Linked DNA regions of Homo sapiens: regions 1, 2 and 3 are each reported to be linked to region 4. The links are microRNA targets in miRTarBase. Many come from high-throughput screens and were not tested one by one. Region 4 holds a microRNA gene; each other region holds the end of a gene's coding sequence.
Evidence for each region. Region 4 holds the annotated microRNA hsa-miR-4662b (AAAGAUGGACAAUUGGCUAAAU, at 2,879-2,900, opposite strand). A microRNA usually pairs through its seed, bases 2 to 8, with sites in the 3' UTR of a target mRNA and lowers its output. Matches are read on the target gene's strand: a 7mer-m8 pairs with bases 2 to 8, a 7mer-A1 pairs with bases 2 to 7 and ends in A, and an 8mer does both.

Region 1: miRTarBase lists TACO1 as a target of hsa-miR-4662b. The part of its 3' UTR that is shown has no 7-base or 8-base seed match.
Region 2: the mRNA of BCL3 is a reported target of hsa-miR-4662b. Seed matches in the 3' UTR shown: 7mer-m8 at 3,797-3,803.
Region 3: miRTarBase lists DOCK11 as a target of hsa-miR-4662b. The part of its 3' UTR that is shown has no 7-base or 8-base seed match.

What each region holds. Positions count from the first base shown.
Region 1 is chr17:63,607,400-63,611,550 of GRCh38, reverse strand. It overlaps TACO1 (translational activator of cytochrome c oxidase I), which reads right to left. Exons shown (of 5, transcript NM_016360.4): 4 at 4,087-4,151; 5 at 3,186-3,749. The coding sequence ends at 3,549. It also overlaps the pseudogene FAM136DP. Among named protein-coding and RNA genes, the nearest start is that of TACO1, 8.6 kb to the right of the region's middle. RefSeq lists enhancers at 1-444, 445-945.
Region 2 is chr19:44,759,370-44,763,520 of GRCh38, reverse strand. It overlaps BCL3 (BCL3 transcription coactivator), which reads right to left. Exons shown (of 9, transcript NM_005178.5): 9 at 3,477-4,093. The coding sequence ends at 3,906. Among named protein-coding and RNA genes, the nearest start is that of MIR8085, 2.8 kb to the right of the region's middle.
Region 3 is chrX:118,685,351-118,689,501 of GRCh38, forward strand. DOCK11 (dedicator of cytokinesis 11) reads left to right here. Exons shown (of 53, transcript NM_144658.4): 53 at 338-797. The coding sequence ends at 457. Among named protein-coding and RNA genes, the nearest start is that of IL13RA1, 40 kb to the right of the region's middle.
Region 4 is chr8:124,819,110-124,823,436 of GRCh38, forward strand. It overlaps MIR4662B (microRNA 4662b), which reads right to left and starts at 2,949; the gene lies at 2,869-2,949. MIR4662A (microRNA 4662a) reads left to right here and starts at 2,876; the gene lies at 2,876-2,942.

The DNA.
Region 1 (4,151 bases), not on the chromosome of region 4:
GGCATCAGAGATGAAAAGGATCTAGGGCTGGTTGTTCTCAGAACCAAGAAGCTTTCAAAACCAGCTTGTGGTAGCCCTTCTTGAGAGCAGCTCAGTCTTCTCATTGGTTCACTCTGACCAATCCCAGGATGCATAGGGACCCAGGCAAAGCAGGCCCTAGTAAGTCCCTTTTTTTTTTTTTGAAAGACAGAGGCTGGGCGCCATGGCTCATGCCTGTAATCCCAGCACTTTGGGAGGCCAAGATGGACGGATCACCTAAGGTCAGGAGTTCGAGACCAGCCTGGCCAACATGGCCAAACCTGGTCTCTACTAAAGATACAAAAATTAGCCGGGGTGGCACGGTGCAGGGCGGTATGGGGACGCCATGGCAGAGCTGCAGCAGCTGTGGGTGCAGGAGGTGGTGGACTCCATGGTGAAGAGTCTGGAGAGAGAGAACATCTGGAAGATGCAGGGTCTCATGTTCCGGTGCAGCACCAGCTGTTGTGAGGACAGCCAGGCCTCCATGCAGTAGGTGCACCAGTACATCAAAGCACTGCCATGTGCCTCTGGCTCAAGCCCGGGCTTTGCTCACCAGTGAGTTGGAGAAGTTCCGGCACCACCTGGCCCGGTGCGCCATGCATTGCAACAACAAAGCCAAAGATTCAATGGATACTGGGAGTAAGGAGCTTCAGGTGAAGCAGCAGCTGGACGGTTGTGTGACCAAGTGTGTGGATGACCACACGCACCTCATCCCAACTATGGCCAAGAAGATGAAGGAGGCTCTCTTATCCATTGGGAAATAACAGTCTTTGCCAGTGGCCACTGGGGCTGAGGGCAAGAATATATTTTTTATAAGGAATTGGGAATTTTAGTCTTTTAAGCAAAGTTTATGAAGAAATGAAGGATGGCCACAAGTGTAAGACATATGTCACTTGCCTCTGGACACTGGTTCTTTTATGTTTCAGTCCTAAAAAATGAAATGGAAAAAAGTGGTGCTAAATTGGGTCAGAGATATTACAGGAGAGTTTTAGAGCTTATATATCCTATGGCCAGTGCTTGTCCTGCCAGTAAGGATCTCCCCTGTAACAAGCCAGAGCCCTCCAAGGCACTAAACTCTTCTTATTACACAGGTACCAACAGGCTGGCAGGTTAGAGTTGGTGGAGTTTGAGGAGAGATATTTTCTCTTTGTTGCCAACATCCTGTTTACCAGAAGTGTCACCACACCATTTTCCGTAAGCTGTGAAACAAAATCCATGAGGTCACCCGCTTAGAAGGGCAAAAAAGTTTTCTGGGTCTTTGTTTTCTTGGTTTTGTGTAATTTATACAAGGCGATACAAATTGATTTTAAGATGTGGAATTGGGAGGGAGACTAGTTTGGATAAGAACTTTGAAAGTTTCCTTGAGGATCCCCATTTCTGGTCATCAAGATGTAGATGTAGATTTCTTAAAATTATTACATGCTGCATCTTTCAGCCTGGAGACCATGCAAAAACATGAGAGGTGATGACATACTAATTATGGGAAGCATAATTACTGGCTGATGGGCCGAGGCTGTGTGTAGCAAAATGACAGGACAATCTTGCAGTAACACTTTCCCGGTGAAGAGAAGGGGGTTTTGATTGTGATATATACTAGTATCTAGAAATGAACAGTAAAAGAAGAGCAGTTGGCTACTTGATTATAACAGAGTTATGAAGTACTGGATTTGGAAAAACCTGGTTTTTATAGAACGGATGGAATGAAAGCCTAAACCTAGCACTGCCTACTTAGCCCCCTGAATTAACAAAGCACAATTGAGACAAACCCTGGCAACAGGAAATCCAAGGAAGAAAAAGTAAGCAACTTGGGCTAGGATGAGCTGACTCCCTTATAGCAAAGGAGAGGCAGACCCCAGTACCAAAAACCATTTTTGCCTGGGGCTTTCGCAACTTGCAGTGTTCCTGCCCCGGCATGGCACGTTATTGTTTTGATAGCAACCTCATTGTATTTTCATCAACTTACTACTTGAAATGATAATATAGCCTGTCCATTTGCTGCTTCCAGGCTGTGTTATATTTTCCCGGTGGTTTGCTTTTAAAAATAAATAAAGTTTAATTTTCTCCCCTCCCCCTCCACAAAAAAATTAGCCGGGCATGGTGGTGCCTGCTTGTAATCCCAGCTACTTGGGAGGCTGAAGGAGGAGAATCACTTGAACCTGGGAGGTGGAGGTTGCAGTGAGCCAAGATCATGCTACTGCACTCCAGCCTGGGCCACAGAGCAAGACTCTGTCTCAAAAAAAAAAGAGACAGACTCAGCCGGGCGTGGTGGCTCATGCCTGTAATCCCAGCACTTTGGGAGGCCGAGTGTGCAGACCACTTGAGCTCAGGAGCTCGACACCAACCTGGACAACATAGTGAAACCCCATCTCTACAAAAATATATATAAATTAGCTGGGCGTGGTGGCATGCACCTGTAGTTCTAGCTACTTGGGAGGCTGAGGTGGAAGGACTGCTTGAGTCCAGGAGGTCAAGGCTGCAATGAGCTGAGATTGTGCCACTGCTCTCCAGCCTGGGCAACAGAGTGAGACTCTGCCTCAAAAAAAAAAAAAAAAAAAAAAAAAAGAAGAGTTCTCACTCTGTCACCCAAGCTGGAATGCAATGGTGCAATCATAGCTCACTGTAGCCTTAGACTCCTGGGCTCAAGTGATCCTCCCGCCTCAGCCTCTCGAGTAGATGGGATTATAGGTGTGAGCCACTGCCAAGTCCCTTATCACTGGCACTTGATTTCCTACTGGGCTAGAACCTTAAGCTGTTTGGTGAAAGAAGGGCACAGAAGTCACACAAAGAGAGCAACAGATGCTTGCACAGCAGCTCACACTGCCCTGGGACAGCTCCAGTAAAGAGCAGTCCTGTGTTCAGGTCCTACCTTCTAGAGCAGGATCTAACACAGGACACCAGTTGAATAGCTTATGCTCTAGATAAGTACAGTTCTTGGTATATAGCTAGTGTTCCAGAAATATTAGTTGCATGAATGAATGACAGGTTTAGGCTGTAAGACCAGCATCAGACCATGGAGTGCCTGGATACAACTACATTTCTATGGCCAATTAAAAAAATAATCCTGGGATTGGAGTAGTAGAGCTAAGCCTAGGGACTTGAAAGTTAGTCCAGAGGATCCCAACAGCTGGACACAAACTCAGGAAGACTCAAGAGCCATACAACAGCAATGCAGCAACCAATAATCACCGTTATTATTAAGAGCAGTTTCTAGTACAGAGCGCCTCAGGGCACTTACAATCCCCACAGAGGCCAGCTACCCAACATCAGAGTCTGACCAGCTGGGTGGTCCTGCCCTGCATCCGAGAGGGTGTCGGGACACTCATCCAGATGGCTCTGAGACAGCAGCAGAGCTGACAAGGAGGCCCCACAAGTGAGATTCCTTTGGCTTCAAGGTCGCAAGTCCTGTCCTTGGGCCTCCTGGCCTGCTGAGCCTCCCACCGGCTTTACCCTCAGAGATTGCTGCAGAAGCCTGTGTGCTGGAATGGGCTGCCACATTTCTAGGAAGGAACCCGGGGGCACATGTAGCCTGGTTATTCAATGTTATCATAGACGTGAATCACATCCTCGTGGTTGCTGAGAGCCTGAATGAGATGTGCGGCCTGTTCCAGGTCGGGCTCAGCCAGCTGCACCTTTGAGTTGGGGATGAACTCTAGTGCACAGGACACAGAACACAGGCCCAGGGAGTCCAGCTTCTTCCTCACTTGGTGCAGTGAAGAGGCATCACAAATAAACTAGGGATAAAGGAAAGTCAGGAGGTGAGGAGCCAGGAGGTAATGAGACAAAGCCACACAGGACCTTGCAAAGTCCTGAATGTCAGTACTGGAATGGATCACTGGGTTTGAGCTCTTCACTGGCAGGGACATCGTTTTCAATGTTTTGACTCTTTCTTTCTCATAGTCCTCACTAGAGTCGGTCCTATTCAGTATTCACTTAATAAATGTTTGTACAATATGTGAACTGTCTCACCTATACCCTGGGGCACATGAAGGAAGAAACCAAGAGGCATGCATAAGGCATCTATCAGGGTCCTCCCGGAAGCCCACCAAACACCCATGTTTTCATGCTTACTTTAAAAACGTTCCTTTCTTCTTCATCTTCAGTTTCCTTGACATCCTCAGCTCCTGCTTCGATTG
Region 2 (4,151 bases), not on the chromosome of region 4:
CCTGGCTAATTTTTGTATTTTTAGCAGAGACGGGATTTCACCATGTTGGCCAGGCTGGTCTCAAACTCCTGACCTCAAGTGATCTGCCCGCCTCGGCCTCCCAAAGTGCTGGGATTACAGGCATGAGCCATCGTGCCTGGCCAGCAACAGGACATTAACATGCCCTTCAAGCCTGGCAGCTTCAGAGATACCAGAGCACAGGGTCTGGGTCAGAAACACTGAAACATAGTTGCAAACAGAAAGACGCATGGACGTCCCAGTCAGGCGGGCCAGGCACACACAGGTCACCCAGTCAGTGCTCACACAGGCCATCCAGAAGTGCGTGTGCATGAGTGTTTGTGTGCACACACACAGCCCTTCACAGACCCCAGTGATGCCATCCAGGAAGTTGTTAAGGCAGCTGGCCCCACAGATGCAACTACATTACAGAGTGATGGGGATTAAATGTTCACTATCAGCAATTCACATGACGACCCAGAGAAGCCCCCACAGATTAAACAAACAAACAAACCAAAAAACCCCATAAAAAACAAAAAACACTCAGTGCTATGGTTTGAATATTTTTTCCTTCAAAACCTCATGTTGAAATCTGATCCCCTCACTTGAACCCAGGTCGAGGTTGCAGTGAGCTAGGATCTCCTGCTGCACCCCAGCCTGGGTGATAGAGTGAGACTCTGTGTCCAAAAAAATGAAGAAATTTGGGCCTGGCACGGTGGCTCACACCTGTAATCCCAGCACTTTGGGAGGCCGAGGCGGGTGGATCACTTGAGGTCAGGAGTTCAAGACCAGCCTGGCCAACAGGGTGAAACCCCGTCTCTACTAAAAATACAAAAATTAATTGGGCATGGTGGTGCATGCTTGTAATTCCAGCTACTTGGGAGGCTGAGGCTGGAGAATCGCTTGAACCTTGGAGGCAAAGGCTGCAGTGAGCCGAGATTGGGCCTCTGCACTGCAGCCTGGGCGACAGAGTGAGACTCTGTCTCAAAAAAAAAAAAAGAACTTTGATTCCCAAGGTTGGAGGTGGGCCTGATGTGAGGTGTGTTTGGGCCATGGGGGCAGGTCCCTCATGAATAGATTAATGTCCTCCCTGGCGGGTGAATGAGTTCTCCCCATTGACGCCCATGAGAGATGGGTGTTAAAGGGAGGCTGGCACTTCTCTCTCTCTGTCTCTCTCTCGCTTCCCCTCCTGCCACTTGATCCCCACACACGTGTGGTTCCCTCGGCCTTCTGCCATGAGTAGAAGCAGCCTGAAGCCTTCACCACAAGAAGCAGATGCTGACACCATGGTTCTTTTATTTATTTTTTTGAGGCAGGGCCTCACCTGTTGCCCAGGCTGGAGTGCTGTGGTGCGATCATAGCTCACTGCAGCCTCGAACTCACAGACTCAAGCAATCCTCCCACCTCAGTCTTCCGAGTAGCTGGGACTACAGGTGCCTGCCACCATGCCCAGCTAATTTTTTTTTTTTTTTTTTTTTTGTACAGACAGGGTCTCACTATACTGCTCGGGCTGGTCTCAAACTTCTGGTCTCAGGGGATTCTCCTGCCTCAGCCTCCCAAAGTGCTGGGATTACAGGTGTGAGCCACCAGGCTTGGCCTCAATTTTGGACTTCTTTTTTTTTTTTTTTTTTTTTGAGACGGAGTCTCACTCTGTCACCCAGGTTGGAGTGCAGTGGTGCGATCTCGGCTCTCTGCAAGCTCTGCCTCCCGGGTTCACACCATTCCCCTGCCTCAGCCTCCCGAGTAGCTGGGACTACAGGTGCCCGCCACCATGCCCAGCTAATTTTTTGTATTTTTAGTAGAGACTGGGTTTCACCGGGTTAGCCAGGATGGTCTCGATCTCCTGACCTCGTGATCCGCCTGCCTCGGCCTCCCAAAGTGCTGGGATTACAGGCGTGAGCCACCGCGCCCGGCCGATTTTGGACTTCTTATGCCCAGAACTGTAAGAGAATAAATTAGTATTGTTTGGCTGGCACGGTGGCTCACACCTTTTGTAATCCCAGCACTTTGGGAGGCTGAGGTGGGTGGATCACTTGAGGTCAGGAGTTCCAGATCAGTCTGGCCAACATGTCAAAACCCTGTGACTAGTAAAAATACAAAAAATTAACCGGGTGTGGTGGTGCACGCCTGTAGTCCCAGCTACTTGGGAGGCTGAGGTAGGAGAATGGCTTGAACCAGGGAAGTGGAGGTTGTAGTGAGCTGAGATTGTGCCACTGCACTCCAGCCTGGGTGACAGAGTGAAACTCTGTTTTAAAAAAAAAAAAAAAAAAGTTAGCATCATTTCAAGCCACTGAATTTGTGATTTGTTATAGTGGCAACAGGAAACCATTACAAACCCCGACTGACACACAGAGGCATACCCCAGAGTCAAAGCACAGATGTGTGGCTGGGCGCGGTGACTCACGCTTGTAATCCCAGCACTTTGGGAGGCCAAAGCAGGCAGATCGCCTGAGGTCAGGAGTTTGAGACCAGCCTGGCCAATGTGGCAAAACCCCCTCTCTACTAAAAATACAAAAATTAGCCAGGCATGGTGGTGGGTGCCTGTAATCCCAGCTACTCTGGAGGCTGGGGCAGGAGAATCTCTTGAACCCAGGAGGCGGAGGTTGCAGTGAGCCGAGATCACGCCATTGCACTCCAGCCTGGGTGACAGAGTGAGACTCCATCCCCCCCCAAAAAAACAACAACAAAACCACAGATGTGGTCCATTAGAGGGGCCCCATGGAACCACTAAGTAAAACTGTCTCACGCCATGTGAGGCAGTCACAGGGCAACAATCACAGCATCACCCCAGATCTCAATGTTAGGAACACTCCCAAGCACCACGCACTCGGACAGCCAGAGACGATTGGGGCTGAAGTCAGCTGTGGGTTATCACCAGGACCCCCACACTACAGAAACACACATGCCCAGGGTCACTACGGAATCCAACAGGGTGCCCTGGAAAGATATCACACACCGGCCAGGTGCAGTGGCTCATGCCTGTAATCCCAGCACTTTGGGAGGCCGACACAGGAGGATCATGAGGTCAGGAGTTCAAGACCAGCCTGACCAACATGGTGAAACCCCGTCTCTACTAAAATTACAAAAATTAGCCAGGTGTGGTGGTGCACACCTGTAATCCCAGCTACTCGGGAGGCTGAGGCAGGAGAATCGCTTGAACCGGGGAGGCGGAGGTTGCAGTGAGCCGAGATCGTGCCACTGCACTCCAGCTTGGGCGACAGAGCAAGACTCTGTCTTGAAAAAAAAAAAAAAAAGATATCACACACCACGTCCTCCTTAGAAACAATGGTACAGTGACAATGATGGCAACATTCACAACCAAACACACCAGAAGTCCCAGAGTGACACACAGGAGATTGTCTGTCTGAGACTCACAACATCACTCTGGGAGTCAACTGGATTCAGTGCACGGGTGTGCACACACACGAAGGCACTTCCGCCAGGTCCATCTCATGAAAGAGGCCCATGCACCCAAGGGATATGGTACAAAAATAGTTTATTACAAAAGAAATCCAACCAAAATGCTTAATAATTTACATCGTGATCCGTGCCCGTTACGGCCCACCTCTCCCCTCCTCAGTTATCTGGTAGAGAGTGGAGGGGAGTGGCTGTTCCCTGGGTCCACCAGCTCTGGGAGGGGACATGGAAATGGAAGATGTGGGTGGCATTCCGGACAGGGACTGGTGCCTGAGAATGCTGGGGTCAGAGTCCTGGGAGGGAGCGAGATGGGGGAACATCTGTGCTCAGAAGAGGGGGTGTATGGGTAGGTGCATGTGCTTCTGTGCAAATCCTGGTCCCGAAGATGGGGGGGGGGGGCAGAGTGAGATCTTCACAGTTTCCAGAAGGGTTGACCCCACAGGGCAGGGGGGCCCCTCCTCATGAGTCCAAGATCTGCCCCCCCATCCCCCTCAGCTGCCTCCTGGAGCTGGGGAGGGGGGCACCGGCCGGCCAGGGCCTCGGAGGACCCCAGCAAAGGGCAGGAAGGCGGGTGGAGATGGGGAAGGAAGGAAGAAATTGGGAGGAGCCATGGGGAATCCAGGGGGGTCCCTGGGGGGAGACTGGGAGGGTGAGGAGGATGGTGATGCGGAGAGAAGACCTGAGGAAGGAAGAGAGACAGAGGGGTGGGTGGTGAGAGGCTAGACCCAGAGAGCAGG
Region 3 (4,151 bases), not on the chromosome of region 4:
TGTCAGAGTCTACCATTTAGAGCTCTTGTTATGACCATCTGTTAAAAAATATTTTAAAGATTGTGTTACCTCTCGCTTTTTATTGAATTTTGCATTTTACAGTCTTTGTTTTTCTTAATGAGTAACTAGATCTTTTCTGCTTTTTTGATATGCTGCCTTTGTAATACAGCTTTGAAGACTTAAGTCGGTAATGTTATTCTTTGCTCTCTCTGCTTTCTGTCTTTTTAAATAACTGTCAGTGATAAATTGAAATATGCCTGCAATTTCATATACACATTCTTTTTTTGGCAGTGGCTATTTTGCTTCATGATAATCATGCTGATTTCTTCTGTTTTAGATATTACAAGAAGACACAATGCATTCTCCCTGGATGAGCAACACATTACATGTATTTTGTGCAATTAGTGGTACATCAAGTGACCGAGGTTATGGTTCCCCAAGATACGCTGAAGTGTGAGGAAATGCAGATGTACGTGACAATGAGACTGACCTTTCTCAGGAATATTTGGAGCTGTGCAAATGTTAAAATTTAAAGATTTGATATACATGGAGTGTTTCTTCTCGACACCAAAATTTTCATGTGTTCCAACAGGGTGCTTACATATTTGTAAATAAGCAACTTGAAAGTGCCTGGAAAATTGCACCACTGTGCTTGGTTTGTACTTTTTTAGGTAAATCTATATGCTGAAAAGTAGAGCTCAAAAACAGTAGTTCAATTTGCTTAATTATTGCTTAAAATAATGGTACTATGTAAAATTGTATAATGGAATACAATAAAAGGTAAAACTTATTTGTAATTAGAAGTGAAAGAAATAATACTTTGAACTTAGCATTTTTCTTGACAAGAAGCTCAATTCATTATCATACTAATCCTTGGTAGGAGGAGAAGAAAATTGATAACATTTCCGTAATACACGGATATTTAAAATTGGGGAGATCATTTGAATCCTTGCCAATTAGTAGTCAAGGCTGGGCTAAAGGAACCAAAAGCATTATTTCACAGAAAATTTCAAAAGGAAAGGATATATTTACAAATATACGAAGCTTAGGCTGGACACGGTGGCTCATGCCTGTAATCCCAACACTTTGGGAGGCTGAGGCAGGCGGATCATGAGGTCAGGAGTTCAAGACCAGCCTGACCAACATGGTGAAACCCCATCTCTACTAAAAATACAAAAATTAGCTGGTCATGGTGGTGCATGCCTGTAATCCCAGCTACTGAGGAGGTTGAGGCAGGAGAATCGCTTGAACCCAGGAGGTGGAGGTTGCAGTGAGCTGAGATCACGCCACTGCACTCCAGTCTGGGCGACAGTGAGACTCTGTATATATAACATATATATAATAGTAAGCTTGAGATACCATATATATATGTTATGATCTGATGACGCTAGGTAATCTAGTAGGTCTCCCTTCTACATACAAGACATCTAAGGGATTTATACAGGGCAAGCAGCATTTGTTGCCAAAGCTTTATCATCTGGGGCCATCTACAAAGATAAAACATTTCTGAGATTGCAGTCAGTACATCCCACAGAACTTCAAAGCTTTTACAGCAATCTGAGGTAGGAGTTTTGTAATGATTATTTTCTTCAGTTACAAGATTAATAAACATTTTGATTAGAACTTAATGGTTGCAGCATGTCTTGGGTCAATGTAGAAAACCACCACAGATTTGGCAAACTAGCTTGGGATTATATTTCTGTCTATGAAGAAATCTCAGATTGCCTAAATAATTCAGGAGAAACCAAGATGTGAATGACATTTTTTAGCTTGAATTATCCAAATCATTTTGGCTGCCTTCTATGGGAACTCGGGTTCTAGACTTCCTTTTTTTTTTTTTTTTGAGATGGAGTCTCGTTCTGTCGCCCAGGCTGGCGTACAATGGCGCGATCTTGGCTCACTGCAACCTCTGCCTCCCTGGTTCACGCCATTCTCCTGCCTCAGCCTCCCGAGTAGTTGAGACTACAGGCGCCTGCCACCACGCCCGGCTAATTTTTTGTATTTTTTTTTTAGTAGAGACGGGGTTTCACTGTGTTAGCCAGGATGGTCTCGATCTCCTGACATCGTGATCTGCCAAAAGTGCTGGGATTACAGGCATGAGCCACTTTGCCCAGCCTACACTTATTTTCCTTATGTGGTTTAGCCTCTTTTACAGATGAAAAAACAGTCACTAAAATATAAATGGATTGCACGGGGCCTTGGCTTTTTGAGCACTTTGTGATCAAGTAAATCCTAGAGATTATGCTCCTGGCCTGACCATTTTTATTTTTATTTTTTGGGGGGTACCATTTTTTCTTTTTTGAGACAAAGTCTTGCTCTGTCACCCAGGCTGGAGTGCAGTGGCGCCATCTTGGCTCACTGCAACCTCCATCTCCCGGGTTCAAATGATTCTCCTGCCTCAACCTCCTGAGTAGCTGGGATTACAGGCAGGTGCCACCACGCCCAGCTAATTTTTGTATTTTTAGTAGAGACGGGGTTTCACCATGCTGCTCAGGCTGGTCTCGAACTCCTGACCTTGTGATCCACCCGCCTCAGCCTCCCAAAGTACTGGGATTACAGGCGTGAGCCACCGCGTCCAGCCCATTTTTTCTTTATATGTCATTTTTAAGCTTTCAGGAGAGCATGAACTTATTTATTAAAAGTTAATTTTGTATTTTAATAGGGGACTTTTACAAGTATTTCCAAGGCAGTTTGTAATTCCTTAATATCTTAGAGTAACCTGTAGAGTTAGTTTCACCTTTAAAGTGATTATATTTGATATGTATGTGTGAGGAATCATCACCTCTAGTAAATGCTGCATTCTGAGAGTTTGGCATCTTGAGGAGACTCCAGCACTCTTCTGTCTGTAACTAGTCCCTGTCAAAGCCCCTAGCACAGCAATATGCACTGTGGGTAGATTTTTTAATGTAATAAATGGCCCCTATTGCCAAGGATCTCGCAGTCTAGTTGAGAAAGCAAGACGCACAAAATTAAATAGTACAAGAATTAACAATGTAAGACAGGAGAAGTCATATGTGAGTATTGCCAAATGAACGACAGCATTCATAACTCAAATCACATTCAAAGAAAGAGATCACTGTGAATTGTAAATGTTCAGGGAGGGTTTAGTGAAGAAAAGTTAAGCTTTGAACAGGCTTCCAAAAATGGAGAGGGGTATTCTAGGCAGGAGGAACACCATAAGCAAAGGTGCAAAAAGAATTTGTGGAGGTTCAGGGGATAGTAAGGAGACCAGTTTTGTCCAAGAGGTGGTAGATGATAAATCTAGAAAATACAGGCTGGGCGTGGTGGCTCATGCCTGTAATCCCAGCACTTTGGGAGGCTGAGACAGGCAGATCACTTGAGCCCAGGAGTTCAAGACCAGCTTGGCCAACATGGTAAAACACTGTCTCTAATAAAAATACAAAAAAAAGTTAGCCAGGCATGGTGGTACACACCTGTAATCCCAGCTACTTGGGAGGCTGAGGCACAAGAATCGCTTGAACCCGGGAGGTGGAGGTTGTAGTGAGCCTAGATCATGCCATTGCACTCCAGCCTGGGTGGCAGAGTGAGATTCTGTCAACAACAACAACAACAACAACAACAAAAAGAAAGAAAAAAGAAATAAAATACATTCGGACTGAGATTTTGGAAGGCGCTGAATACCAGGCTAATGGTATTTGGAGTTTACTCAATAGGCATGAGAGAGCTAGCCAAGGTTTTTAAACAGATTACTTAATTAAATGTTATTTTTAGAAATTTAATCTTTTATATTGCTGCCAGATGTATTTGAGGTAGAGAGACATGGAAATTAGGAAACCAGTTACATAGATATTGCAATAAACTAAATTCAATAAACCTCTAGATGTGAGTGATATGACAAGAATGGAGAAGAAAGGACGAGTCCCAGAGACATATATGGAAGGACTAGGTAAGACTCATTGGATGGCCAAGGGAAAAAAAAAAAGAAATGTGAAAGATAATTTTGTGTCCTGTGGCCAGGGAGTTTGCCATGTCATGGCACAAGCTCACTAGATTTATTTTTCCAACTCTCAGACTAAAGGTAGCAAGCTGTAGAGAACAAGGTGGGCTCGAACAGAGAAAGCTAGGTAAATCTGTTTTTTAAACACTACATGTATTAGGCATTAAAGTGTATATAGTTTAATGATTTCTTG
Region 4 (4,327 bases):
GTGATTATAGTACAACATCAAAACCAGAAAATTAACATTGGTGCAATCCACAGAGTTTATTCAGATTTCACAGGTTTTACATGCACTTATTCTATGTGTGTGTGTGCCCATCTGTGTGTATAGTTATATGAAGTTTTATCACGTGTATGTGATTCATGTAACCATTACCGTAATCAAGATAGAGAACTGTTTCATCACAACAAGCCTCCCTCATTCTACCTCTTATAGACTTATCTCCTCTCCTTCCTTATCCCTAGCCCTGGAAACCACTGATCAATTATTCTCTATCTCTATAATATTGTCATTTCAAGAATACTATAAAAATTCAAAAGGTTACAATATGTAACTTTTGAGATTGGCTTTTTTCACCCAGTGTAATTCTCTTGAGATTCATCCATGTTGGCTGTATTAAGAGTTTATTCCTGTTTATTGCTGCATAGTATTCCATGGTATGGATGTTTAACCATTCAACCATTGAAGGACATTTGGGTTGTTTCTAGGTTTTAGATATTTCCAATAAAGCTTCTATGAACACTCATGTACAGGTTTTCGTGTGAACTTAAGTTTTCATTTCTCTGAGATAAATGTACAAATGTGCAAATGGTAAGTGCATGCTTAGTTTTATAAGAAACTGGCAAGCTATTTTCCAGGGTGATGCTACCATTTGACATTTCCATCAGCAGTGTGTAAGTGATCCAGTTTCTTTACATCCTCACTAGCATTTGGTGTTATTGCTTTTTTTAATTTTAGCCATTCTAATAGTTACACCATAACAACTCATTGTAGTTTTAATTTGAATTTTTCTAATGGCTAATGGTGTTGAACATATTTTCATATGCTTATTTGCCATCTGTACATTTTCTTCTATGAGCCATTTATTTGTGGTTTTTGGCCCATTTTGTAATTAGATTGTTTTGTCTTCTACTGTTATGTTTTGAGAGTTCTTTATATAGTCTAGATACAAGTCTGTTAGATGAATATGTGGTTTGCCAATATTTTCTCCCAGTCTCTGGTTTATTTTTTCATTCTGTTTTTTTTTTTTTTTTTTTTTTGAGATGGAGTTTCGCTCTTGTTGCCCAGGCTAGAGTGCAATGGCGCATCTTGGCTCACCGCAACCTCCACCTCCTGGGTTCAGGCAATTCTCCTGCCTCAGCCTCCCGAGTAGCTGGGATTACAGGCATCTGCCACCAAGCCTGTCTAATTTTTTGTATTTTCGTAGAGACGGGGTTTCTCCATGTTGGTCAGGCTGGTCTCGAACTCCCGACCTCTCGTGATCCTCCCAAAATGCTGGGATTACAGGTGTGAGCCACTGTGCCCAGCCTTTTCATTCTCTTAATAGGGTGTTTTTCAGAGCAAACATTTTTAATTTTGATGAAGTATCAAGATGCCTCAATTTTTTCTTTTATAAATTGTGCTTTTGATTTTAAGTCTAAGACCTCCTTAACTTAGCTCTAAGTGCTAAAGATTTTCTCCCATATTTTTCTCTAAAAGTGTTGAAGTTTTATGTTTACATCTAAGTCTGTGATCTATGTTAATTTTTGTATAAAGTTTTAAAGTATGAGACTTAAGTTAAAACAAGAGATTTTGTTTTGTTTTGTTTTTTGCTCCAACACCACTTGTTGAAAAGAGTTTCCTTCCTTCATTCACTCGCTTTTGCACTTTTGGTATTTTTGGTAAAAAATCAGTTGAGTATATTTTTGTGGGTCTATTTCTGAGTCCTCTATTCTGTTTCATTGATTTGTGGGTTTATCTCTCCACCAATATCATACTACCTTGGCAACTGTAGCTATATAGTGAGACTTAACACAAGGTAGAGTGCTTCCTCCTACTTTTTAAAATAGTTATCACAGCTATTTTATTTTCAAAATTTTTGCCTCCCATACAAATTTTAGAATAAGCTTGGCTTTGTCTACAAAATCTTTTTGGGATTTTGATAAGAATTGTGTTAAACTATTGATAATTTGGGAAGAATTGACATCTCCACTATGATGAGTCTTCCAGTCTATGAACATGGTATTTCTCCTCATTTATGTAGGTCTTTATTTTTTCATCAGCATTTTGTAATTTTCATCAGAGACATAGTATATGTATTTATACCTAAGTATTTTATTTTCTTTGAAGTGATTGTAAATGGTATTGTTTTTAATTTCAGTTTCCCCATGTTCATTGACAGGATAAACAAATGCATTTGATTTTTGAGTGTTGATCATGTATTCTGTGACCTTACTTAATTCACTTATTAATTCTAGGAGGTTTATTTTAGTTTATGTTTTTTAGATTCTTTAGGATTGTATAAATAGACAATCATGTTATCTGCAAATAGAGATGATTTTATTTCTTTCTTTTCAATCTGTATGTCTTGTATTTCTTTTTCTTGCTATATTGCACTGGCTAGAACTTCTACTACCCTGTTGAAGAAGATGTTGAAAGCAGACATCTTTGTCTTATTCCCAATCTCAGTGGGAAGACGTTCAGTTGGCACCATTAAGTATGATGTTAGATGTTTTTTTTTTTTTGTAAATGCTTTTTCACAAATTGAGATATTTTTCGTCTGTTCCTACTTCAGTGAGTTTTTTTGAAAAATAGGGATCATACTTTGCTTTCACAGGATTGCTGTGATGATTCTAGGTGAAACATAAGTAAAAGTTTATGGCTGTTGTGGGCCCTCAAATAAGGTTTAGAAAAACAACCTTTGGACAACATTAAGGCGAGTCATTACAACTTAAAGTGAAACCTTCTGTAGACAAATGATCTCACATCTTCACTTCTAGGTATCTCTTCTGAAGAAACATTGGCTCATGTCCCAGAGATTTATATACAAGGAAGTTTACTGCAACCATGGCTGCAACAGAAAAAGCCATTGTGTACCACAGTGTCTATTTAGCCAATTGTCCATCTTTAGCTATTCTGAATGCCTAAAGATAGACAATTGGCTAAATAGAAATTGTGGTACATCCATACAATGGAATACCATGAAGCCATCGACAAAACATCAAGATTCTATTGACCAACATGGAAAGAGTGCCATGGATGGGCACGGTGGCTCACACCTGTAATCCCAGCACTTTGGGAGGCCAAGATGGTTATATCACCTGAGGTCAGGAGTTTGAGACTAGCCTGGCCAACATGGCGAAACCCTGTCTCTACTAAAAATACAAAAATTAGGTGGGCATGGAGGCAGGCACCTGTAATCCCAGCTACTCAGGAGTCTGAGGCAGGAGAATCGCTTGAATCTGGGAGGTGGAGGTTGCAGTGAGCTGAGATTGTGCCATTGCACTCCAGCCTGGGCAACAAGAGCAAAATCTCAAAAAGAAAAAAAAAAGAGAGAGAAAAAGTGCCAAGACACAAGGTTAGGTGAACAAAGGAAGTCTCAAAACAGAACAATTTGATTTTATATTTATAAATGGCATAATATATAAATATGGCTTATAAATTTATACTTATATCTACATACATATAGTATATAAGTATGTATTTTTAAAACCCAGTCATATATTGTAAACACATTCCTAAGTGCATAGAAAAAGGCCTAGAAGGACTTGACACTCATTTGTTAACATCGGACATCCTTCGGGAAATGAATGGGATTGGGTAGAGTACAAAGGGGTACAAAAGATCACTTTAAAAAACTTTATAAATATATTTGGTCTTTAAAACATTTTTTTACAATGATAATGTTTATATTTACTATCTGTTTACCTAAATAAGACTCAGGTAGTATGGGGCAGGGAGTAGCAATTTCTAGTGGTAAAATTTCAGACAATTGTTTTCCATAGTCACTGGGACCCAGAATTCCTGAGCTCTCTTTGTTCTATTGCTGGCTGCAATATTAGTTGTATGATTTTGGACAAGTCACTTTCTCTCTCTGGGCCTCAGATTCCTCTTGTAATGAGGAGATTAAACTAGAGTACCCATGGATAAGCATTTTTATTATTCACATTTAAGCATCTGACCTCTCTTTGCAAATAGGTTTTTGTATGTGGAACCTTTATGTATACAACAGAAGAAAGCATGTCAACAACCCAACTATTTGTACCCCGGATCCATTTCAGCACTAACGTTTTCTGACTGGAGTTGAAGGCAGTGAACCCAAAGCCACCCGTCAGAACTATACTGCCCCTCAGCTGAGTGAAAAATAACTGGGTGATTTCAAGTGACCCACAGAAGCTCAGGAGTGACAGTTGCTCTCATAAAATGTGTTCCCTGAGCATTAAGCCCTGGTGTTGGCAGGGTCTGATAGCTCAGGGACTGTTTGAGCTCCAAGGAGATCATTACTGTTTCTAGAGAGTTCTATGAGGACCCTGGGTCTTTGGAAGAACTATCCATT